7 linked regions of the Homo sapiens genome follow. The protein of the gene in region 1 purifies or fractionates together with the protein of each later gene. This does not show direct contact. Each region holds a gene or a part of one and is shown in the gene's direction. Other genes may lie near its edges.

The links.
Region 2: the proteins of CTDP1 (region 1) and ABCB7 purify together in Homo sapiens (affinity purification with mass spectrometry; one large-scale study listed by BioGRID and IntAct). This does not show direct contact.
Region 3: the proteins of CTDP1 (region 1) and SFXN4 purify together in Homo sapiens (affinity purification with mass spectrometry; one large-scale study listed by BioGRID and IntAct). This does not show direct contact.
Region 4: the proteins of CTDP1 (region 1) and ITPR1 purify together in Homo sapiens (affinity purification with mass spectrometry; one large-scale study listed by BioGRID and IntAct). This does not show direct contact.
Region 5: the proteins of CTDP1 (region 1) and ACAD9 purify together in Homo sapiens (affinity purification with mass spectrometry; one large-scale study listed by BioGRID and IntAct). This does not show direct contact.
Region 6: the proteins of CTDP1 (region 1) and EPB41L5 purify together in Homo sapiens (affinity purification with mass spectrometry; one large-scale study listed by BioGRID and IntAct). This does not show direct contact.
Region 7: the proteins of CTDP1 (region 1) and AKAP13 purify together in Homo sapiens (affinity purification with mass spectrometry; one large-scale study listed by BioGRID and IntAct). This does not show direct contact.

Annotation. Positions count from the first base shown.
Region 1 is NC_000018.10:79,714,303-79,717,802, forward strand, and holds part of CTDP1 (RNA polymerase II subunit A C-terminal domain phosphatase), read left to right. Parts: intron 1-188; coding exon 189-1,226; intron 1,227-3,232; coding exon 3,233-3,374; intron 3,375-3,500. UniProt on the Homo sapiens protein: Processively dephosphorylates 'Ser-2' and 'Ser-5' of the heptad repeats YSPTSPS in the C-terminal domain of the largest RNA polymerase II subunit. This promotes the activity of RNA polymerase II.
Region 2 is NC_000023.11:75,146,284-75,149,783, reverse strand, and holds part of ABCB7 (iron-sulfur clusters transporter ABCB7, mitochondrial), read left to right. Parts: intron 1-3,500. UniProt on the Homo sapiens protein: Exports glutathione-coordinated iron-sulfur clusters such as [2Fe-2S]-(GS)4 cluster from the mitochondria to the cytosol in an ATP-dependent manner allowing the assembly of the cytosolic iron-sulfur (Fe/S) cluster-containing proteins and participates in iron homeostasis.
Region 3 is NC_000010.11:119,159,215-119,162,714, reverse strand, and holds part of SFXN4 (sideroflexin-4), read left to right. Parts: intron 1-300; coding exon 301-375; intron 376-1,633; coding exon 1,634-1,660; exon of another isoform or gene 1,661-1,745; coding exon 1,746-1,800; intron 1,801-2,961; coding exon 2,962-2,987; intron 2,988-3,500. UniProt on the Homo sapiens protein: Mitochondrial amino-acid transporter. Does not act as a serine transporter: not able to mediate transport of serine into mitochondria.
Region 4 is NC_000003.12:4,671,348-4,674,847, forward strand, and holds part of ITPR1 (inositol 1,4,5-trisphosphate-gated calcium channel ITPR1), read left to right. Parts: intron 1-1,788; coding exon 1,789-2,040; intron 2,041-2,854; coding exon 2,855-2,996; intron 2,997-3,500. UniProt on the Homo sapiens protein: Inositol 1,4,5-trisphosphate-gated calcium channel that, upon inositol 1,4,5-trisphosphate binding, mediates calcium release from the endoplasmic reticulum (ER).
Region 5 is NC_000003.12:128,910,620-128,913,614, forward strand, and holds the end of ACAD9 (complex I assembly factor ACAD9, mitochondrial), read left to right. Parts: intron 1-121; coding exon 122-194; intron 195-1,887; coding exon 1,888-1,988; 3' UTR 1,989-2,495; downstream 2,496-2,995. UniProt on the Homo sapiens protein: As part of the MCIA complex, primarily participates in the assembly of the mitochondrial complex I and therefore plays a role in oxidative phosphorylation.
Region 6 is NC_000002.12:120,075,577-120,079,076, forward strand, and holds part of EPB41L5 (band 4.1-like protein 5), read left to right. Parts: intron 1-124; coding exon 125-177; intron 178-1,394; coding exon 1,395-1,515; intron 1,516-1,652; coding exon 1,653-1,740; intron 1,741-2,916; coding exon 2,917-3,005; intron 3,006-3,500. UniProt on the Homo sapiens protein: Plays a role in the formation and organization of tight junctions during the establishment of polarity in epithelial cells.
Region 7 is NC_000015.10:85,383,603-85,387,102, forward strand, and holds part of AKAP13 (A-kinase anchor protein 13), read left to right. Parts: intron 1-73; exon of another isoform or gene 74-133; intron 134-460; exon of another isoform or gene 461-508; intron 509-604; exon of another isoform or gene 605-795; intron 796-3,500. UniProt on the Homo sapiens protein: Scaffold protein that plays an important role in assembling signaling complexes downstream of several types of G protein-coupled receptors.

The DNA of each region.
Region 1 (3,500 bases):
CCCTGGTCCCACGCACTTCAGGTAAGGGGTGCTCACCCTGTCCGGCCTCTTCACAGCAAGGTTGCCAAGGCCTGGTCTAGAGGGTGGTGGACTTCACAGCCATGGAGAAGGGTGCTGCTTTAACTTGGAACGTTATTTAATGTTTAATGCTAAATTGCGGTAACTTTTCCTTTTGCATGCATATTTAGTAAATCATTCTCGAGGCACTGAGGTCTCAGAGCCATCTCCGCCCGTGAGAGACCCTGAGGGGGTAACGCAGGCCCCTGGAGTGGAGCCCAGCAATGGCCTGGAGAAGCCTGCACGGGAGCTGAACGGCAGCGAGGCCGCCACCCCGCGGGACTCACCCCGCCCCGGGAAGCCAGACGAGAGGGACATCTGGCCCCCTGCCCAGGCCCCCACCAGCAGCCAAGAGCTGGCAGGCGCTCCTGAGCCCCAGGGATCCTGTGCGCAGGGTGGCCGGGTGGCACCGGGACAGCGGCCTGCCCAGGGTGCCACGGGCACTGACCTGGACTTTGACTTATCCAGCGACAGCGAGAGCAGCAGTGAGTCCGAGGGCACGAAGTCCTCCTCCTCCGCCTCTGATGGCGAAAGCGAGGGGAAAAGAGGCCGGCAGAAGCCGAAGGCTGCCCCAGAGGGAGCCGGGGCGCTGGCACAGGGCAGTTCCCTGGAGCCGGGGCGGCCTGCAGCACCGAGTCTCCCCGGAGAGGCCGAGCCTGGCGCGCATGCCCCGGACAAGGAGCCTGAGCTGGGTGGGCAGGAGGAGGGCGAGCGGGATGGCCTCTGCGGCCTGGGCAACGGCTGTGCCGACAGGAAGGAGGCGGAGACCGAGTCACAGAACAGCGAGCTGTCGGGGGTCACTGCGGGTGAGTCCCTGGACCAGAGCATGGAGGAGGAGGAGGAGGAGGACACGGATGAGGATGACCACCTCATCTACCTGGAGGAGATCCTGGTCCGTGTACACACTGACTACTATGCCAAGTATGACCGCTACCTCAACAAGGAGATCGAGGAGGCGCCGGACATCCGCAAGATCGTGCCGGAGCTCAAGAGCAAGGTGCTGGCAGACGTGGCCATAATTTTCAGTGGGCTACACCCGACAAACTTCCCGATAGAGAAGACGCGGGAGCATTACCACGCCACGGCGCTGGGAGCGAAGATCCTCACTCGGCTGGTGCTGAGCCCCGACGCCCCTGACAGGGCCACGCACCTGATCGCCGCGCGAGCTGGTGAGTGCTGCCTCCCTGTGCCCTGGGCATGGTCAGGCCCGCGGGCTCCTTGCAGGCACTCCTTAGAGTTGGCATTGCTGTTTATCTCACTTTCAATTTTCAGAAACATTTCCCAGAATCACCATCTTTTAAGAATAGATCATGACAGTGGGTGAAATTGGAGTTTGGGCACGTTCATGCTTTCAGACCGCAGTCATCGCACACACCATTCAGGGGTGGGAGTTACTCGTGTGTAGAAAGTTCAACCTTCTCCCTGGAGTAAGCCATGGCCGGGTTGGAAAACAGGGAATCAGCGATAGGGACGTAGTGGAGAAATTCGAGGCAGGAACAGGAGTTCGCAGGTAAAAGATTGACAAACCCTCTGAGTTAGAAAACTAAATGCAAGGTTTCAGCTGAAACGTGCACAGAAGGACACGTTGTGGCTGGGAGGGCGGAGGACAGGCCTGCTGTCTCCCGACGGTGAAACCTGTCCCGGACGGGGCAGGCTGCTCTGACATGTTGAAACTTCCGCCGAATAAAACAACCTTTCAGCAATAGGTGATTCTTGAAGGAAGACTTAACACCCCGGTGCTTAAAAAACCCAAATACCTCGTTATTCTAGTTATTCTGTGAAAATGCTCCCATAAGCACCTGGATTTTCCGCGAATGAAGATTGCGGTTTTTCTCCTCCAATCTGCTTCCTGTCCTGGCGGCGTTTCCTGAGAGGGCTTCTCAGTGCGTGGCCCCGCCTCCGGGGCTCAGGAAAGCCTTGTGGGGTGAGCTCATCCCTGTCCACGCACGCTCCCTGACAGCAGGTGTGGTCTTATTTGAGGCCACGGCTCTGGCACGTATCATGGGGCGTTGGACACGCATGTGCTCAGTAAAGCATTTGAATCAAGGGTAAATGGAAGGTTCCATCTCAGTGTGAAATAGCCAGGTGCTAGCTGCAGGGCAGAGGCGGGCTTTCCGTGGAGCCCAGCGAGACCCTTGATCCCAGGAGAAAGCCAAGCCCTGGCCTCCTGTGGGCAGTCAGACCCTTCTCTCCTGAGCGTGGAGCCGGGCCAGGCCGGGGTCCTCCTTGGCCCCTCAGGTGCCTGTCTGCCCTGCCGCGTGTCTGCCCAGCTCCTGACCCTTCTCTCCTGAGCATGGAGCTGGGCCAGGCCAGGGTCCTCCTTGGCCCCTCAGGTGCCCGCCTGCCCTGTCCTGTGAGTGCCCAAGCTCCTGGCCCTTCTCTCGCATTCCTTCCTTCCCCCTGAATTGTGCTCACGTTTCCTTTTTGCTTCTGTGTACGTGGCCTCACTGTTGAGAGGCTTTGCTGAACACATGCTAAGAGAGGTCCTCCTGCTGCTCAGGTCACCCGCTGTGCCCGGCTCCCCGTCTGAGATCCACCCCTTCCCACCATGGCTGCCTATCCCTGGCCTGGCAGATGGGAACCTGCAGTGGGCAGCCCTGGTGGGGTGCAGCCGGGTGAGGGCCCTGGTGGGGTGCAGCCGAGTGAGGGCCCTGAGCCCTAGTGGGGTACAGCTGGGTAAAGGCCCTGAGTCCTGGTGGGTACAGCCGGGTGAGGGCCCTGAGCCCTGGTGGGCTGCAGCCGAGTGAGGGCCCTGAGCCCTGGTGGGGTACAGCTGGGTGAAGGCCCTGAGTCCTGGTGGGTACTGCCAGGTGAGGGCCCTGGGCCCTGGTGGGGTGTAGCCGGGTGGGGGCCCTGGTGGGGTGCAGCCGAGTGAGGGCCCTGAGCCCTGGTGGGGTACAGCTGGGTGAAGGCCCTGAGTCCTGGAGAGGTGCAGCCGAGTGAGGGCCTTGGTGGGGTGCAGCCGGGTGAGGGCCCTGGTGGGGTACAGCTGGGTGAGGGCCCTGAGCCCTGCAGGGGTGCAGTCAGGTGAAGGCCCTGGTGGGATGCAGCCGAGTGAGGGCCCTGAGCCCTGGTGGGGTACAGCCAGGTGAGGGCCCTGGTGGGTGCAGCCGGATGTGGGCCCTGAGCCTCCAGTGCTGGCCGGAACAGCCTGACGCAGCCGGGTCTCCTGCAGGCACAGAGAAGGTGCTGCAGGCACAGGAGTGCGGACACCTGCACGTGGTCAACCCTGACTGGCTGTGGAGCTGCCTGGAGCGCTGGGACAAGGTGGAGGAGCAGCTCTTCCCGCTCAGGGACGATCACACCAAGGCACAGAGGTGGGTCCTCGCTGCACCCAGCAGGTCCGTGCCAGGCGTTCCCTTGCTGGACAGCTGTTGGTTCATGCACCTGGGCAGTGCCCCTCATCACCCGGACGCCCCGCTCATGGCCCTCGTTCTCTTCCT
Region 2 (3,500 bases), on another chromosome or scaffold:
CCATTCCTTATAAGCTAATAAGACTTTGATTTCTCCCTCCTCTGAACTCCTACAACACTTTTTCCTACAAGTAGTTATGTATCTTGTGGAGGAGATAAGATTTTATGTGCCTAAAATGCTAATATATTCCAATCATCTTTTTGTTTTTATCTTCCACAGAGCTAGGCACGGTATGTTACATGTAATAGGTAATCAGAAAATATATGTAAAATGAATGATTAAACTCTATAACCAAACCAAAGCAAAAATCTAACATAATAATTAATAATATTTGCTCCACTGCTATACATTTGGAATTGAAAGCTAACTTTCTTCAGGGCAACCTCATAAGTTTGTCCGTTGCATTTCTGTCATTAGGCATATGGTACCGTGGTGGAGTAGCATCACTGATTGTTGTCAGTTTTAGTTCAATAACCAAAGCACACTTACTTTTTATCCTAAAATTTTTGAGTTACTTTATTTGTGAGCATCATTTGCTAAGATAAAGTGACTTACAGGATAACATTCTTTGAGGAATAAGATATAAAAATTTGCTGTTTGTAGAAATTTTAACTGCACACTGTATTTTGGGATGTTCATTAGTCCTCTGATTAAGTTTTCTTTACAATATCTAGAGAGGGATGGATATTAAAGTAGGGAAACCGCATCCTAAGGGTATAGTTCCTTAGGTGCTGATGTTTTGGGAGAGCAACTTTTAAACTTCTGCTTTTCAAAGCATATTAGAAAAAGACAAGGTGAAGCTTCGATTTTGGTTTACTTATAAAATTGTTTTTACTGATCTTGAGTAACTTATACTATAATATTGTAATATATTCATATTTTTGAGTGCATGAATGTTTGCTAAGTATGAACTCTTTCTTCAACTACTCTGACTGTAGTGACTTAATAACTGTGCATGTACATGTGTGCTTGCCTGCTACGTTTGCCATAACACCACAGATTGGGTGGCTTATACAACAGAAATGTATTTTCTCACAGTTCTGGAACCCATGAAGTCCAAGATGAAGGTGTCAGTAGAGTTGATTTCTTCTGAGGTCTCTCTCCTTGGCATGTAGATGGCCATCTTATACCTCTGTCTTCACACTGTCTTTTCCACTGTTTGTGTCTGTGTCCTGATATCCTCTTCTTAGAAGTATACTGGTCATATTGGATTAAGGCCCACCTTAATGACCTCATTGAACTTTAATTACCTCTTTAAGGGCCCTGTTTCCAAATATAGTCACATTCTGAAGTATTAGAGGTTAGGACTTCAACATATAAATTTGTGGGGGTGGGGAGTACACAGTTCAGACCATAACAATGTGTGTATGTGTTTGTATGTGTGTGTATGTATATGCAAATACATAGAAAATTGGAAAGATATACTCCAGTCTGGTAAAAGTGGTTACCTCGGGGGTTGGGGGGGGGTTTGGGATGCTAAAAAACAAACAAAAAAAATTTAATTTGCTATTATGGATACACAGACATAGTTTGATATACTGTACTTGTTTTTACAATGAGAAAAATATTTCATGTTTAAGCTTTTCAATTGATGAACTGACCTTTTTGAGTAGGTTATATTATGTTCATTTATTTGAAGTCCAATTTGTTTTGTCTGCTAGTAGTAATGCATTTTATCATCTCTGTAACTTTTATTTTATTTGTTTATTTTTTATTTTTTATTTTTTTGCGATGGAGTTGTGCTCTGTCACCCAGGTTGGAATGCAGTGGCACAATCTTGGCTCACTGCCACCTCTGCCTCCCAGGTTCAAGCGATTCTCCTGCCTCAGCCTCCCAAGTAGCTGGGATTACAGGCGCACACCACCACACCTGGCTAATTTTTGTATTTTTAGTAGAGATAGGGTTTCGCCATGTTGGCCAGGCTAGTCTCGAACTCCTGACCTCAGGTGATCCGCCCACCTCGGCCTTCCAAAGTGCTGGGATTACAGGCCTGAGCCACCACGCCTGGCCTTGTAACTTTTATTTTAAGTTCAGGAGTACATGTGCAGGTTTGTTACATAGGTAAACTTATGTCATGGAGGTTTGTTGTACAAATTATTTTATCACCCAGGTATTAAGCCTAGTAGCCATTAGTTATTTTTTCTGATCCTCTCCCTTCTTCCACCTTCCACCCTCTGATAGGCCCCAGTGTGTGTTGTTTCCTTGTATGTGTCTATGTGTTCTCATCATTTAGCTCCTACTTGTAAGTGAGAACATGTAGTACTTAGTTTTCTGTTCCTGTGTTAATTTGCTAAGGATAATGGCCTCCAGCTCCAGCCATGTCACTGCAAAGGACGTGATTTTGTTCTTTTTTATGGCTGCATAGTATTCCATGATATATTTGTACCACATTTTCTTTATCTAGTCTGTCATTGATAGGCATTTAGGTTGATTCCATGTGTTTGCTATTGTGAATGGTACTGCAATGAACATACGCATGCATGTGTCTTTATAATAGAATGATTTATATTCCTTGGGGTACATACCCAGTAATAGGATTGCTGGGTCAAATGGTAATTCTGTTTTTCATTCTTTGAGGAATTGCCACACTGCTCTCCACAGTAGTTGAACTAATTTACACTCCCACCAACAGTGCATATAAGTGTTCCTTTTTCTTCATAACCTCACCAGCATCTGTTATTTTTTGACTTTTTAATACTAGCCATTCTGACTGGTGTTAGGTGGTGTTTTGTTGTGATTTTGATTTGCATTTCTCTAATGATTAGTGATGTTGAGCATTTTTTTTTTTGTGTGCTTGTTGGCTGCATGTATGTCTTCTTTGGAAAAGTGTTTTTTTCATATACTTTGTCCACTTTATGTTTTTTTTTCTTGTAAATTTGTTTAAGTTCCTTATAGATGCTGGATATTATTAGAGCTTTGTTGGACGCATAATTTGCAAAAATTTTCTCCCATTCTATAGGTTGTCTGCTTACTCTGTTGACAGTTTCTTTTGCTATGCAGAAGTTCTTTAGTTTAATTAGACCTCATTTGTCAATTTTTACTTTTGTTGCAGTTGCTTTTGTTGTTTTTGTCATGAAATCTTTTCCCGTGTCTCTGTCCTGAATGGTATTACTTAGGTTGTCTTCCATGGTTTTTATACTTTTGGATTTTACATGTAAGTCTTTAATCCATCTTGAGTTAATTTTTGTTTATGGTATAAGGAAGGCTCCAGTTTCAATCTTCGGCCTGTGGCTAGCCAGTTATCCCAGCACCATTTATTGAATAAGGACTCCTTTCCCCATTGCTTGTTTTTGTCAGGTTTGTTGAAGATGATATGGTTGTAGGTGTTAGGCCTTATTTCTGGAGTCTCTATTCTGTTCCATTGGTCTGTGTGTCTGTTTTTGTACCAGTACCATGCGGTTTTGGTTACTGTAGCCTTGTAGTATAGTTTGAAATCAGGTAATGTGATACCTCCAGCTTCATTCTTTTTTCTTAGGATTGCCTTGGCTATTTGGATTCTTTTTTGTTTCCATTTGGATTTTAAAATAGTTGTCTCTAGTTCTGTGAACAATGTCAATTAC
Region 3 (3,500 bases), on another chromosome or scaffold:
GACATGTATAGCCAGGGGATGGTGGTAACCATTCAGTGCGACAGTTGACATCAGAGAGTGGGGGAGGTGACAGCACCATTGGGGGCAGCTGCTGGAGCATCTAGGAAGAGGAAGGCATAAATCTGAATGGCACTCAGGGCTATCCTAATGGATAGAGAGCCTAGGGCACCATGTGGCTTGAAATCAGGCATGCAGTCGAAGTCCAGTGCATGCTGGTGAGTGAGCTGGTGATTCCTACCTCTGGGGATAAACCTGAACAATGTTGAGATCATTACTTGATTACTTGATATCTGATTTTAGGAAAGTATAGAAAACTCGAGGCAACTATTGTGCACAAATGAAGATGTTTCCAGCCCTGCCTCGGCGGACCAAAGGGTATGTTTCACGTGCTCAGGTCTGGCTGGTTGCCCTCAGATGGTTCTGCCTGCATGGTCTGAAGTCAGGTGGAATTTGGCCATTAATCTCTGTCTCCGTCTCTTTTCTTTCTTTTTTCCTTCCCTTGGGAGCCACTGTTCTATTGGCTATTAATGCTGTCATTGTTATATACTGCCCAGAGGACCAGCTTTGCAAAACTGGGTTAGTTTTTTAAATGTAGTTAGAATTCTGTCCCATAAACCAGACAGCAAGTTTCCTCCTACACAGTGGATATTTGTGGGGATTCCCTGCAGCTGATTCCTGGAGCCCAGTGGCAAACCCCAGAATTCAGACAGGGCTCTGACGTCAGAATTCATTCTCCACTGCAGGCAGCGTTCCTGCCGATAGGCTCAAACGGACTGTTCCTTATCTACCTTGCAGTATGTGGGGCTTTCTGGAGCTCACAAACACCAGCTCCTCAAGACAGCCTATGGAGAGCTCACATATTTAACTTTTTCTAAGAATGTGCTGGGGACCCTGGGCTGACAGCTTGGCTCTGTTGCAAGTAACTTGACTGATGGCATGGTGTGTCATCAGCACACAGCCTGCTCTGCTCTGAGCCAGAGGCAAGCCGGATTCGGGGACTCATCTGAGGGATAAGTTAGGTGTTGGTATTCTCCAAGGGTAGAGACAGGACTTTTTAATGTTCTGGTCCATTTCTCTGTGTGGCTCGTCTCTTTGCTTGTCATTAGTTCATTTGTTTATTCATATGATCCATTTATTTTGATTTGTTCTGTCAATGTGGTAAATAACAGCTCTGGCCTTCACTCTCTGAAAGGTAGAACAAATGTGGTCCCAGAAATGAGACAGGCAAAGAAATTCTTTGCTGTTGAGCCACCTTTAAAAGCTTTTTTTTTTTTTTTGTTTTTTTTTGTTGTTGTTGTTGTTTTTTTAAGGCTGGGTGTGATGGCTTAACCCTGTAATTCCAATGGTTTGGGAGGATGACTTGATGCCAAGACTGCAAGACCAGCCTGGGCCGTATAGCAAGACCCCATCTCTACTAAAAATTAAACAACTAGTTGGGAATGGTGGCGTGAGCCTGTAGTTTCAGCTATTCAGGAGGGTGAGGTGGGAGGATCGTTTGAACCCAGTAGTTCGAGGCTGTTCTGCAGTGAGTGATGATTGTGCCACTATACCCCAGCCCTGGGTGACAGAGCAAGACCTTGTCTCTTAAAAAAAATTTAAAATGAAACAAAGCTATTCTTTTTTCTCCTTTAAGATACAAGAAGCTTGGAAGCGGAGTCTTGTAAGTTTCAGCCCCTTCCTAATTTTTAGTGTCCTATAATAACAAAACCAGACATCCAGCTAACCTTGCATCTCTCCTTTTGAAGGCAACAGTGCATCCCGACAGCAGCAACCTGATCCCCAAGCTTTTTCGACCTGCAGGTGAGTTGGTTCTAATTTTCAGAAGTGGGTTGGGAAGATGTAGTTTCTAACACTTAGAAAACTCTGCCTGCCGGATCACCTGGGGTCAGGAGTTCGAGACCAGCCTGGCCAACATGGTGAAACCCCGTCTCTACTAAAAATGTAAAAAATTAGTTGGGCATTGTGGTGGCACGTGCCTGTAGTCCCAGTTACTCAGGAGGCTGAGGCAGGAGAATTGCTTGAACTTGAACCCGGGAGCCGGAGGTTGCAGTGAGCTGAGATCATGCCATTGCGCTCCAGCCTGGGCAACAAGAGTGAAACTCCGTGTCCAAAAAAAAAAAAAAAAAGAAAAGAAAACTCTGCCTGCCTTGCTTTAATTATTTCTCCCCCAGCAGGATTTCTTTCTTTTTTTTTTTTTTTGAAACAGTGTCTTGCTCTGTCACCTAGGCTGGAGTTCAGTGGCACAATCTCGGCTCACTACAACCTCCGCCTCCCAGGTTCAAGTGATTTCTCCTGCCTCAGCCTCCTGAGTAGCTGGGATTACAGGTGCCTGCCACCATGCCCAGCTAATTTTTTTCCTTTGTGTATTTTTAGTAGAGACAGGGTTTCACTATGTTGGCCAGGCTGGTCTCGAACTCCTGACCTTCTGATCCGCCCACTTGGCCTCCCAAAGTGCTGGAATTACAGGCGTGAGCCACTGTGCCTGGCCATGTTATAGTAATTTTATGTACATACTTTATTATTATTGTCATTTTTAGAGACAGGGTCTCGCTCTGTTACCCAGGCTGGAGTACAGTAGCACCATAATAGCTCAAAGCAGCCTCCAACTCCCAGGCTCAGCTGATCCTTCTACCTCAGCCTCCTGAGTAGCTGGGACTACAGGGTCATGCCGCCACACCTGGCTTTAAATTTTTTATGGAGGTGGGGGTCTCGCTACCTCTACAAAATAGAGGCTGGTCTCGAACTCCTGGCCTCAACCCATCCTCCAGCCTCAGCCTACCAAAGTGCTGAGACCTTGACCCCCCACTTTATTAGAAAAACAAAGAATGAGTGGAAAAAGTCCTTTGAGGTCTGTGCCTTCTGGAAGCTGGGGAAGAGGTGTTCAGGTGGGTAGTCCCCTTCTGGCCCCCTCTGCCTGGGCAACTGTGATCACTGACACCTCCTCTCTTCTCTTCCTGCCAGCGTTCCTGCCTTTCATGGCACCCACGGTGAGCAAGCAGACATTTGCCGTTAGGAGACTAGGGGCTTGGGAAGATGGCCACTCTCCTCCTAACCTCAGCTGTGTCCCTCCAGCTCCGGACCCCTGTCACATGACTGCCTGATAGATGGTTGTGGATCCCCACTGATAACCCATGGCTGCTGTTCATACGTCCTTGTCCCCACTCCCTCCCCCTCCCCACACCCTCCCAGTCAGGCATCCGGGCCTCTGGAAGGCCCACAGCTTGGCAAGGTCATCCCTTTTCTGAACACCAAGTATGCGCAGAGCACGGTAGAAGCGGCCAGTGAGTTAGGATGAGCTCCCTGCACAAACCCCTGGCCACCAAGTCCTCCTCTGACACAGCCCCTCACCTGGGACCTGGCATTGTCCCTGTGAGGCTTTTCTCACCTTGGCCCTTGGGAGGTGCTTTTTGGTTTTTTGGGTTTTTTTTGTTTTTCGAGACAGAGTCTGGCTCTGTTGCCCAGGCTGGAGTGCACTGGCGCAATCTCAGCTCGCTGCAACC
Region 4 (3,500 bases), on another chromosome or scaffold:
AGACAGAAGATGTGTGTGTTTGTATACACATATATCTACACATTCATCCATGTATCTTTCTATAACTACACAAATATATAATAAAAAGCATGTACTTACACTAATACTTCCAATTCCATTCCAACACCATAGGATTTATTCTAGCCTTCACCTTTTCCATTTCATGACTCCCTCCAGCTGCCACGATTCCCTGTATGTTTACCCATCTGCCCGTTTCCCTGTGTGTACCTGTCTCACCTCTGCCACCCACCTCCACGGTCCCCAGTGTCTCCTTGGCTCCAGCTGTAAGACCTGCCAGTCCTGCCACCTGAAGGGAAGGGAAGGGGAAGAAAGAAAGGAAGTGAACCAATTAATACTTTTAAAAGAAAAGGAAAGGGAAGATAAAGCAAGGCTTTTATTATTTTTTAATAAAATAAATAAAACTGCAGATAAAATGCCTTTTCTTGCCTCCTGTATTCTGTTCTTTCATTCATGTGTGATGTACGCATCCTATCCACATTCTCTGTGTGCTGCATTTGTATGCATCTGTAAATCATATGTAGTATTTTATCTCTACTTAAAATTTTATATAAATGGGACTGTACTCCAAATACCATTCTAAAACTTGCCTTATTTATTCAATACGGGTACTGAAGCCATATTGAATATATCTGCGTTAATAGAGATTAATCCATTTCTGTAATTTGGACTGTTGGATGATATTCTGTTTTATTGATTTATCACATTTTCATCGCTGTTTGATATTTGATCACATGCTGCAGTTCTTCATGTCAGGAAACATCTTCATTCAAATTTTTCTGAGTATATGTATGAATTTCCATTCCACACTGGGAGGTGGGCTTGGAGGATATTCATATTTTAAGCTTTACTAAGCAATTCTAAATTGGATGTGTCAGTGTACACACCCACCAGTTGTAGACGACAAGCTTTGTTTCTTCATGTCTTTGTTAACCTTGAATATCATGATGCTTTTTAATTTTTGGTAATTTTATAAGTGTGAAATAGACTCATGTCTACACTTGCATTTCCCCGACATCTAATGAGGCTGAGAATGTCTTCAAATCATGATTATTAGAAATACATAGAGTTTTTAATTCAGAAGGCAGTATTTTGAAAGCCTGTGGCTTTCTCGTTATTTCACATTTCAAGTATGTTTACTCTTTCAGTGTTTGATGAATCTTCTCCCAAGTGAATGAGAAAGAGTGCCTTAATTGGTCAGGTTCCAGTTAACAACATTCACTTGCAATTGGATGAAGATGAAAAGTGAGGAGTCTCCTACTTTTGTAAATGAAATGTTTTTTTACACGTGTAGGAATTAGAGTGACTTACATGATATAAGATCTTTAAAATGTTATAAAATTTCTAATTAGGCTGAATATGTGTGATATCTTGAACATTTCCTACATGGTCTTTACTGTATAAAACACAGCTGAAGGGAAAGAAATAGACAACCATCTTAGGCCTTAGCATTCCCCCCGTTTATTTTAAAAAGTAAACATTAAGGACCTAGTGGAATTAGGTCGTCACATAATTGCTCCAACACAGCTGGATAGACATGTGTTCCTGTTGGCTGTCAACCCACACTCTACTGCACAGCTTGAATAGTTCTTTTATCTGCTTGGTACCAAAGCCAAAATCCTGGTATACAAGAGCAATTTAGGGGTGTTGATGTATGAGTTTAGTTGGCCAAATGTCACTCCCATGACAGTCAGGGCTGCCCAGACGACCCTTCATTCATCCTGAATGATTTCTGGAGCGTGAGCTGTGTGCCCTTGTTCCTTCCTCTAGATATCAGCTGAACCTCTTTGCGAGGATGTGTCTGGACCGCCAATACCTGGCCATCAACGAAATCTCAGGCCAGCTGGATGTCGATCTCATTCTCCGCTGCATGTCTGACGAGAACCTGCCCTATGACCTCAGGGCGTCCTTCTGCCGCCTCATGCTTCACATGCATGTGGACCGAGATCCCCAGGAACAAGTCACCCCCGTGAAATATGCCCGCCTCTGGTCGGAGATTCCCTCGGAGATCGCCATTGACGAGTGAGCCTGGCACCTGAAAACCTCACTTTACATTATTCTGTGCGGCAGTAGATAGCCCCATATGGTCTCATTAAATCTTAGAAGAAAGATGAAGTGTTGGTTTTTTCTTCAAGCTTAAAATAAAATTAAGTGGATGGCAAATATTTTTTTCCTCAAGAATGTGAAAGATGGCATGATTATGTTTTTGGTTTTTGTTTGTTTGTTTGTTTGTTTGAGATGGAGTCTCACTCTGTTGCCCAGGCTGAACTGCAGTGGCGCAATCTCGGCTCACTACAAGCTCTGCCTCCCGGGTTCGTGCCATTCTCCTTCCTCAGCCTCCCAAGTAGCTGGGACTACAGACGCCCACCACCACGCCCGGCTAATTTTTTGTATTTTTAGTAGGGACGGGGTTTCACCGTGTTAGCTAGGACGGTCTCGATCTCCTGACCTTGTGAGCCGTCCACCTCGGCCTCCCAAAGTGCTGGGATTACAGGCGTGAGCCACCGCGCCTGGCCCCGATTGTATTTTTTATATCTCATTTATCTCCTCTTTCATTCTGCAAATATTTAAGTGTGTACTATGTGCCAAGCTCAAGAAATATATCAGTGAACAAACTAGAAAGCAATCTCTATGCTAGTTGGTGGAAGACAGACAATAGGCAAGATAAACGACTCAAATATATAGTTGGTGATATATGCTAAGGAGGGAAAAAATAAAGTAGGGTCAAGGGATGCCAAGGGTTAGGGGATGTTGACTTTTGAAGCTGAGTGACCCAGGAAGACCTCTCTGGGAATAACTTGAAATTTTGTTTCCTTTCTTTCTCCTTTCTTTTCAGCTATGATAGTAGTGGAGCTTCCAAAGATGAAATTAAGGAGAGATTTGCTCAGACCATGGAGTTTGTGGAGGAGTATTTAAGAGATGTGGTTTGTCAGAGGTTCCCTTTCTCTGATAAAGAGAAGAATAAGCTTACGTTTGAGGTAACTCATGATGAAATCTTCTATGTGTATTATCTGCCTCTCAGTGGTCATTTTTCTATGGGGCAAATAGAAAATATGTGAGTAGGTTGTGATTTTGGTCATGATGCTCTGGTTTTGTAATGGAAAGGAATTCAGCTTGGTTTTGTTCCAGAATAAAATAAAACGGATACCAGTCACATGGCTTAATAGTAGTTATGGGCTTAAAAGAAATATACAAGGTGACTTGAACCACATAAAATGATAGAACATCACTTTGTGTTAAAACTGACAAGAGAGAAACACTGTGCTTGCAATCTGCCATAGCTTAATCATTTGCAGAACATAAATCCTTGTTACTTCTGAGTTAACAACGTTTCTGAGACTGCTTTTGCCTTTTAAGAGCTGTATTGCTGAGGATCGCAGAGTGTTATTATCTGTGTCCTTATTGGGAATAACTCTGCTTGCCTGGTGTTAATATTATCCTTGGGAAGCTGTGTAGAGCAAATGATGAGGTCTTTTTTTTTT
Region 5 (2,995 bases), on another chromosome or scaffold:
CTGTGCCAGGCCTTGTGACCCCTGCCATGCTACCCAGTTTGGCTGATAGGCTGGGTTTTTGAAGCTCAGAGGTCTGATTCCAGGAATTTGGGCATATCTTTTCTGTCCTCGGTTCTGGCAGGTTCTCTTGGCCAACACCTTCTGCGTGGAAGCTTACTTGCAGAATCTCTTCAGCCTCTCTCAGCTGGACAAGTGTGAGTGGCATGTCTTGGGGGAGGGAAGGAAGGGCCCACTTCTAGGCCCCTATTGATGGTGAGCTGTTTCTGGACCCTGTCAAGCTCCCAGAGCCTGCTAGCTACTCACAGACCTCTGCCTTGAGCGAGGGCCTGGGTAGGCCTGGGCTTAGCTGCAGCAGTGCCCACCAGGCACTGTAGGTGCATACCTGCCCCATTCACCAAGGCAGTTGTATGTATATATGTGTGTGTGTGTATGTATGTATGTATGTATTTATTTCGAGATGGAGTTTCGCTCTTGTTGCCCAAGCTGGAGTGTAATGGCGCAGTCTTGGCTCCCTGCAAACTCCACCTCTTGGGTTCAAGCGATTCTTCTGCCCCAGCCTCCCGAGTAGCTGGGATTACAGGCGCACGCCACCACGCCCGGCTAATTTTTTGTATTTTTAGTAGAAACAGGGTTTCACCATGTTAGCCAGGCTGGTCTCCAACTCCTGACCTCAGGTGATCTGCCTGCCTCAGCCTCCAAAAATGCTGGGATTACAGGCATGAGCCACCGCACCGGGCCTGCCAAGGCAATTTTAGATTGAGCAAGTGCAGAGCCCTTTGCGCAGGACCCCTGGCATCTGCCCAGCATGCCTGGCTGTATTCTCTTTTTTTTGGAGACATAGTCTCACTTTGTCACCCAGGCTGGCTGGAGTGCAGTGGCATGATCTTGGCTCACTGCAACCTCCACCTCCTGGGTTCAAGCAACTCCTGTGCCTCAGCCTCCTGAGTAGTTGGGATTATAGGCACGCACCACCATGCCCAGCTAATATTTGTATTTTTAGTAGAAACAAACAGGGTTTCACCATGTTGGCCAAGCTGGTCTCCAACCCCTGACCTCAGGTGATCCGCCCACCTTGGCCTCCCAAAGTGCTGGGATTACAGGCATGAGCCACTGTGCCCAGCCCTGGCTGTATTCTTGAAGCTGCCCGGGGAAGGCTCACGAAGGGAGGAGCATCTGGTTGTACCTGATTCTGGAGACAGCATTTTACCTGCCCCTTTACCCACTGTACTCCATCCAAAATGACCCTGCAGTGCCCTGCAGAGGTCTCAGGCCTTGGCCTAGAGAACAGAGGGCTTTGCTCGTGCTCCCCGCTCTGTCTGCAGTGCTCTTCCTCTTCTATAGCCACTCGACCATATCTAGGAATGCCCAGCTCAGTCTACCTCTGACCCTCACAGTCCTGTTGACCTGAGGTTCTGGATCAGTGTCCCCACAAAGCCCAGTCGTGTTGCCAAGTGATGGGTGTAGGCGCCAGCACTGTGGCACTTGCTGAGAGTGGCATATGATTTTTTGCAGGTCCTAGCCCTGGGGGTAGCCCAGACACCCCCCCAGTGCTGACAGGTTATGTGCTGTGGAGGGTGCTGAAATGGTTTCTCCTCCAGTGGGCTGGAATCACAGATGGGCTGTTTACGGAGCAAGTGCCGGCTCCACCCCATGAGATCTGGGGGTTAGAGATGAGCAGGATGAGTCCTTTGTAACTGAGAATGAAGCTGTACCCCTTTCTCTCCCTGCAGCCCTGAATCACTTGCTGGGGGTCTGGAGGAGGGGTTCACCCTTAGGGCTGCTTCATGGTGGGTGGGCTGACTTTGTGGAAAAATGCCCCCACTTCAGCCATGTTTGTCTTATCACGGTGCAGAAAGATCACCCACCATCTCTCCTTTTCCTTCCCAGATGCTCCAGAAAACCTAGATGAGCAGATTAAGAAAGTGTCCCAGCAGATCCTTGAGAAGCGAGCCTATATCTGTGCCCACCCTCTGGACAGGACATGCTGAGGCAGGGGACAGTGTCCCCTGCTACCGCCCGCCCCTACCCATGGCCCGTTGCTGGATGACTGTTACTCTTTTTTCAGAAGGTGTTGGGATTATCACAGGTTAAGCCTTTTGTTCCCCGTCTGCACCTGAAGGGTTGTCGCCTGGCCTGGGAGAGCCTCTTCCAGGTTTTGACCTGCAGGCAGTGCTCTCTAACAGGACCATCACAGCTTCTGAACTGAGCCGGAGAGAGAGAATGGAATTGCTGACCCCTGGAACTGGCGGGTATTCTGGTCATTGAGGAGACACCATAGTGGAAACTGGGGCTTATGCTGCTGCCTCCAGGGTGTGAGGTGGGTGGGGACCTGTGTCAGGTGTGGATAGCCATTTCTGCTCAACCACACATTCTCTAAGAAACAGCTTGAAAGCTCTGTCTGGGTCATTCATTTAAACTAGAAGCAGAGGCACTTAAAACATGTACCAGGAACCATTTAACAAAGAATATAAAATGTCACAATCTGTGTACTGTTAGCCTTTGCTGTACTTGTCACACTGTTCCTTAGAACCAGCCTTTAATGGGTGACAGCAGGACCCTGAGAACCACCCTTTGGTGATGGCCTCGGGTCCCCTTTGTCCTCACCCTGCAAGGAGGGCCCAGAATGCTAAGGAGCAGACACACAGTGCAGGCCACAATCCCTTGGGGTTATGAGCCCTTAGTTTTTATCCTTCTCAGGAGATGATGGGGAGGCTGTCTCAGCTGATGATGTTCCCACCTAGGGACTTTAGTTTCTTTACAAGAACTGGCTTCTACTCTTGAGGAGAGGATGAATGGTATCTCCAGGCCAGCAGGCCTTTGCATTTCTCCAGCCTCCCTTCTGCTGGCACTTGAAAGATTACACCAGGTCCCAGCGTGCTCACTGTGGTGAACTTTAAGCTTTGATGTGGTCCTTGGGTGGTCTGGAGCTCTAAAATGCCTATTGTGGACACTCCCTTGAGCACAGAGAAGGCAGCCGACTCTTTTTCCTCCAAGT
Region 6 (3,500 bases), on another chromosome or scaffold:
TTTTGAAAATAAGTTTATAGTTGTAAAAAAGAAATGGTCAACATAAAACATGTATTATTTTCATTTGTCTTAAAATGAAGGTTATGAAATCAACTTGTCTAACAAACTTGTGTTTTGGTCTCAGATTAGACTGTCCCTTTGATACAGCAGTGCAATTGGCAGCTTATAATCTGCAAGGTAAGCAATTCTTATGTTGACTGTTAAGACTCAAGTATAATCTTTTTTGTGTGTGTTTTTAGTTAAAGAAGATTCTAATTATGTGCAAGAAAAGAAACAACACTGTTTTTGTATAAACTTGTATCAGGGTCCAACTCTGACTTTTACTTGTTTTAGAACATTGCCTTCTTTTTCTTCTCTTTCATGTAATTGCGCCCTTTCCACCTAAAGTGTTGAAACGTCATACTCTACCTGATAAGTCTGTAAATGCTAAGATTGGGCCTTCGGCTAACTTTTTCCTTAAAAGAAATGCAGTTATGTAGGAGTGAATTGTTGGTGAAGCCATATAGCTTAGCAGTCCTTTTGCTCCAAACCTACATTTTGTTCAGAAATAACCACAGATGAGTACATACATGTTTGTGCATTGTTCAGATTTTTCCCTGCTGCTTTCTCCCCCCGATTTTTTTTAGTTCCTTTCAGTTATTTCTTTAGGATTAATAATTTTAAAATTTTGGAAGACAGGGACTATATTTAGATTGGTATATGGGGTCATATTCAGTGTATATCAGTATATTCTTTTGTTTTGTTTTTTTTTGAGACAGGGTCTCACTCTTGTCCCCAGGCTAGAGGGCAGTTGCATGATTGTAGCTCTCTGAAGCCTTGAACTACTGGGCTCAAACGATCTTCCTGCCTGAGTAGCTGGGTCTACAGGCCATTAGGCCTGGCTAATTTTTGTACTTTTTTTTTTTTTTTTTTTTTTTTTTAGAGACGAGGTCTTGCTATGTTGCCTAGACTGGCCTGAAACCATCTTCCACCTCAGCCCTCCCAAAGTACTGTGACTATAAGCATGAACCACCACACCCAGCCTTAGTAATATTCTTAATAGATGCCAGTTAATTGTCTTTTAACGATTGCTAAATTTTTTCATTTATTCACTATAAGGTCAGAGGTATTTCTTTATGGAAGTCTAGAAAGCAGTTTTCAAAGGTTAAGTAAGCACTGAAGTGTGAATACATTAAGAGAAAGATATGTAATTAAAAATACACTACCAAAAATAAATATGAGATATATGTGTATGACTAATATGCCAGATTTACTTTTGGAGACTTGTCTGAGTATTATGAATTTTTGTAAGAAATTCCTAAGAATCTTTCTAATCTTAGCAGTTTTCATTAATGAAATGGTTTTTGAAGGATTTAGCAGGAAATACATATAACTTTTGAAACTTATGTTTATAGCTGAACTTGGTGACTATGATCTTGCTGAGCATAGTCCTGAACTTGTCTCAGAGTTCAGATTCGTGCCTATTCAGACTGAAGAGATGGAACTGGCTATTTTTGAGAAATGGAAGGAATACAGGTATCTGGCGTTTGACCATACTTTCTTTAAAATCACCACAACAGTTATTTCATATTCATTTTCTTCTGTTTCTATCCTTGGTATAGAATTTATTTTATATTTATTGTTACTTTAAAAATCATTGTTTTAAATTTCAGAGGTCAAACACCAGCACAGGCTGAAACCAATTATCTGAATAAAGCCAAATGGCTAGAAATGTATGGGGTTGATATGCATGTGGTCAAGGTAAGCATTGTGTTGTGATGCTTTTTTAAAAATTTATTCTTTGGAGGTTCGCAGTGACTGTGGAATTTTTCAGTATGAGGGAGGGCATGGAGTTTGCATAAGCTAGCACTGGGTACTTTGGATGTATGGTTAAAAAGTTTGAGATTAAATACCAAATGACTAGAATCTCACAGAAAGGTTCATTATAAGAAAGAAGAGAAGCAACCAACATCCCTAACAAGGTACTTGGTCCTTTTAAGCTGTTATTTTATTTTATTTTATTTTTTTGCTATAAAAAATTGTTTTAAGCTTTTGAGCCATTTGTTATCCTTTTTACTTCCTGTTATACGACTTACACTGAGTAGGCTCTGTTAAAATAATTCAGGATGCAAAGTTGAAGATTTATAGCTTAAAGACTTTGATAAACTTTAGAACAGCTTTGTAGTGATTTAAGTTATTTCTAGTTTAACTAGTAACATTTTTCCAGAAAGGCGGTTGTATTAGTTCATTCTCGCACTGCTATAAAGACATAAATTTATAAAGAGGTTCAATTGGCTCATGGTTTTGCAGGCTGTACAGGCTTCTCCCTCTCAGGAGGCCTCAGGAAACTTATAATCATTGGGCAACGTGAAGGGCAAACAGGCACATCTGTACATGGCTGGCAGGAGGGAGAGAGAGCAAAGAGGGAGGTGCTACACACTTTCAGACAACCAGATCTTGTGAGAACTCATTCACTATCATGAGAACAGCAAGGGGGAAGTCCGTCTCCATGATTCAGTCACCTCCCACCAGGCCCCTCCTCCAATACTGGGGATTACAATATGACACAAGATTTGGGTGTAGACATAGAGCCAAACCGTATCAGCAGTCTTTTCCAAAATACATGATTTAAGTGGTAAGTATAATATGGGAAGAATGTGGAAACAGCTTTGTTTGTAGTGGGAGTGTAACTACCCACTTTCAATGAAGATACACTTTAAAACTCTAGTGTTTCAATGACTAGAAATAAAAATATATGCATAAATTTTTCTGAGAATATTATTATGGATACTCTAATTGTTGAAAACATCTCATATATTAATATTAGCCTGTATATAATTAATACAATTCAATACAAAAATAAAATTTAAAAGTTGTGTCAATGTGAAACCTGTTTTGTACAAATAAAGCTAACACATTTTTCTCCCCTTAAATTAGGCTAGAGATGGGAATGACTATAGTTTGGGACTAACACCAACAGGAGTCCTTGTTTTTGAAGGAGATACCAAAATTGGCTTATTTTTTTGGTAAGCAAGAGTTATTGTCAAAGATACTTACTGTTGTTTTGGTTTTTAATGAGTAAATAAAGTTAATACATAAACAAGTTTGGAAATCAAATAGTTTTGAAAAACTTGTCAATGAAAGCAACTGTCTCCTGTCACACTATTACGCATCATTATTCCTACTCTCCAGAGGCAATTATTAAAACTCTTCTAGCTGTATTTCCCATTAGTTTCAAAGTATACCACAATCTATATCTTGATATAAATATTTATATTTTTATATGTATCAGATGTTCACATGGGCACTTTCTCCCTCCATGTAGTCATGTCATTGCTTTTAATATTTATTATTCCACAATCCCTTTACCCCCTATTGTGTAAGAGGAAGATACTAATATTTTTATCCCTTCTCTAAGCTGTGCTCCTTATACTGTTCCAGCTTTTATCGTTCATACTTTTAAATTACATTTATGTTTTACTTTTACATCAAGGATAGATTTTACTTGGATTTCTTGGCCA
Region 7 (3,500 bases), on another chromosome or scaffold:
TCTTCAAAGGTGCCAGATGAACTGAAGGATAATGGAAACAATAGCGAGTTTATCTTCTCAGTCACCTGTGAGTCTTCCTTTGAGAGTGGGACTTGCAGAGTGGCTTGGTAGGGTAGAGCTCTTTGTGACTATGCTATTTGGGCAACAGTGAGAGATGGATTGTTTTCAGTACATCAGTCATAAGAGGATATGAGTTCCAACTTTATTTTACCTTAGTCTTGGCAAATAAGTGTGGATTGTGTCTGTATTTCTCAAACTTGTTTAAGGTAGAGCTGGACTGGGTGTTAACAGTGTTAGTTCAGTACAGAGACATGAGCAAATCACTCACTTCCTCTTCAAGATAACACTTTAAAGGTGACACCATTTACAGAAGAAGGCAGTGATTTAAATCAGTTATACTAGCATAGTTTAGAATACTTACACTACCTAGATGGAGTAGATACATTCTAGAAATATTTACCTGTTAAGGACATTTCTTTAGATTTTATTCCATCTTTCCATTAGTTTTCTGATGAAGAGATTATAGTAAACCTTTAAAAATTATATTTGATCAAACTTACAGATTGAGGATAAACCTTTAAAAATTACAGTTGGTCACACTTACAGATTGAGGGTAAAAACATTCCTGACAAAGCTAGGCGAAGAAAGTTGGACTTTTGATGTTCCCTTCTTTTAAAGTTAACATCTGGCACTTGAATAGACTTGGTTATTACTGATGGGGACAGGCATCCATTTGGAAGTAGCTTCCCTCTCTCTTTCCCAGGTTAGGCTGTCTTACTGCTGTAAATGGGGAGAGACGAGAAAGCTGTGGGTGGAAGAAAGTTTGTTTCATAGCCTGGCGCAGTGGCTCACGCCTGTAATCCCAGCACTTTGGGAGGCTGAGGCGGGCGGATCACTTGAGGTCAGGAGTTCAAGACCAGCCTGGCCAACATGGTGAAACCACATCTCTACTAAAAATACAAAAACTAGCCCGGCAGGGTGGCAGGTGCCTGTAATCCCAGCTACTTGGGAGGCTGAGGCAGGAGAATCGCTTGAACCCGGGAGGTGGAGGTTGCAATGAGCCGAGATCATGCCACTGTGCTCCAGTCTGGGCGACAGAGCGAGACTCCGTCTGAAAAAAAAAAAAAAAAAGGTTTGTTTCATGCATCTGTCCTCACTGGTCAGTGGAAGAAAGTTTGTTTCCTGCGTTTGTCCTCATATTTATAGTTTTCTCGTCCACCTACAAGTTGATTGTGACGTTATGAATAGAAGATGAATGGATAATGTGTTTTTGTCAGACCTTGCTGTAAGGATGGACCTGGTACTGAAATACCGTGATTGTATGAACATTTGTGTGGGGCAATGCTGTGTTCAGTGCCTGGGGAATGTGGATATCAGTGTGTTTGTATGATATGGGTGCTAGTATGGGAGAGAAGGAAAACGTGTGAGGTTTTTGACCATTTATGTCACTCTGTAAGCTCTTCTCTGGCTACTTTGGTGCTATAGTAGCAGAGTTGAGTAGTTACAACAGAGACCATGTGATCTGCAAAGCAGAAAATATTTACTATCTGGGCTTTTACAGAAGTTTGCTGACCCTTTTTCTACATAACCAACTGCAGTTATTCACAACAAGAAAGATTAACGTTAATTCTATAATATTATTCAATACCTATTCAACTTTCTCTATTTGTCTCCCAAATATCTTTTATAGTTGATTAAGAAAAATTTTGGACAGAGTAAAATTAAAGTTCACTCAGCACATCATTATGTCTCTTTAGTCTCTATTTTTTCATTCTTTAATTATTCATATGTATAGTTTACATTCACTAAAATTCCGCCATTTTAGTGTAACATTCTCTGAGTTTTGACAGGTGTATACATTCATATATCCACTGCTGCAAACAGGACAGTCCCTTCATCCTCCAGAATTCTTCTGAGCCCTTTTGTACTCAACCGGTTCTCTACCCCCAGACTCTGGAAATTGCTGATCTGTTTTCTGTCTCCATGGTTTTTTGCCTTTTCAAGAATGTTGTAAAAATGGAATCACACGGAATGTAGCCTTTTTATTCATTTGCCCAATGACTAATGATATTAAGTATCTTTTCATCTGATTATTTGTCATTCTTTGATGTCAATTCAAAATCTTTTGCTTAAAAAATGAGTTTTTGTATATACTTTGGAATCAAATACATGATTTGCAGATATTTTCTCCTAGTCTGTTTTTACTTGTCTTAATAATGTCTTTTTTTGTTTGTTTGTTTCGAGATGGAGTTTGGCTCTGTCACCTAGGCTGGAGTACAGTGGTGAGATCTTGGCTCACTGCAACGTCTGCCTCCTGGGTTCAAGTGATTCTCCTGCCTTAACCTCCCGAGTAGCTGGGATTACAGGCACACACCACCACACCCAGCTAATTTTTGTATTTTAGTAGAGATGGGGCTTTTCCATGTTGGCCAGGCTGATCTTGAACTCCTAACCTCAAGTGATCTGCCTGCCTCGGCCTCCCAAAGTGCTGGGATTACAGGCGCGAGCCACTGTGTCTGGCCTTCTTGTCTTAATAATGTCTTTTGAAGAGCAGAAGTTCTTAATTTTTATGATATCCAGTGTTTTTTTGTTTTTTTGTTTTTTCCCTGAGTGGATCATGCTTTTGGTATAATAGTTTAGAAATCTTTGCCTAACTTAAGAGCTCAAAGACTTTCCCCTATATTTCCTCCTACAAGTTATTATTTTTTTTTTTAGAGATGGAGTCTCACTCTGTCATCCAGGCTGGCGTGAGTGAGATCTTGTTCACTGGAATCTCCGCCTCCCGGGTTCAAGTGATTCTCCTGCCTCAGCCTCCTGAGTAGCTGGGATTACAGGCACCCACCACCATGCCTAATTTTTGTATTTTTACTAGTGATGGGGTTTCACCATGTTGACCAGGGTGGTCTGAACTCCTGACCTCAAGTGAGCCACCCACCGCAGCCTCCCAAAGTGCTGGGATTACAGGCGTGAGCTATTGTGCCCGGCTCGCCTAGAAGTTTTATCATTTAAAATTTTATATTTACATTTATTATCTGCTTTGATTTAATTTTCCTAAATGGTGCAAGGTATGCATTGAGTTTATTTTTTTGTGGATGGATTTACAATTTTTCCAGCAACAGTTTTTGAAAAGACTGTCCTTTCTCTGTTGATTACCTTTGTGCCTTTTTTTTTTTGCAAGTTGATCATAAATGTGTGGTTTTGTTTCTGGATTCTCTCTCCTATTCCATTGATCTGTGTCTTTCATTTCTCTATCACCTCACTGTTGATTACTGTCACCTTAGAGTAAGTTTTAAAATCAGGTAGTGTGAGTTATCTTATTATTTTTCAGAATTGTTTTTTGGGTATTTTAGTTGCATTGCCTTTTGTGCATATTTTAGATTCATCTTGCTGTTATCCACAAGTCCTGCTGGGTTTTTCTTTTTCTTTTTTTTCTTTTTTAAGATGAGGTCTCAGCCGGGTGTGGTGGCTCACGCCTGTAATCCTAGCACTTTGGAGGCTGA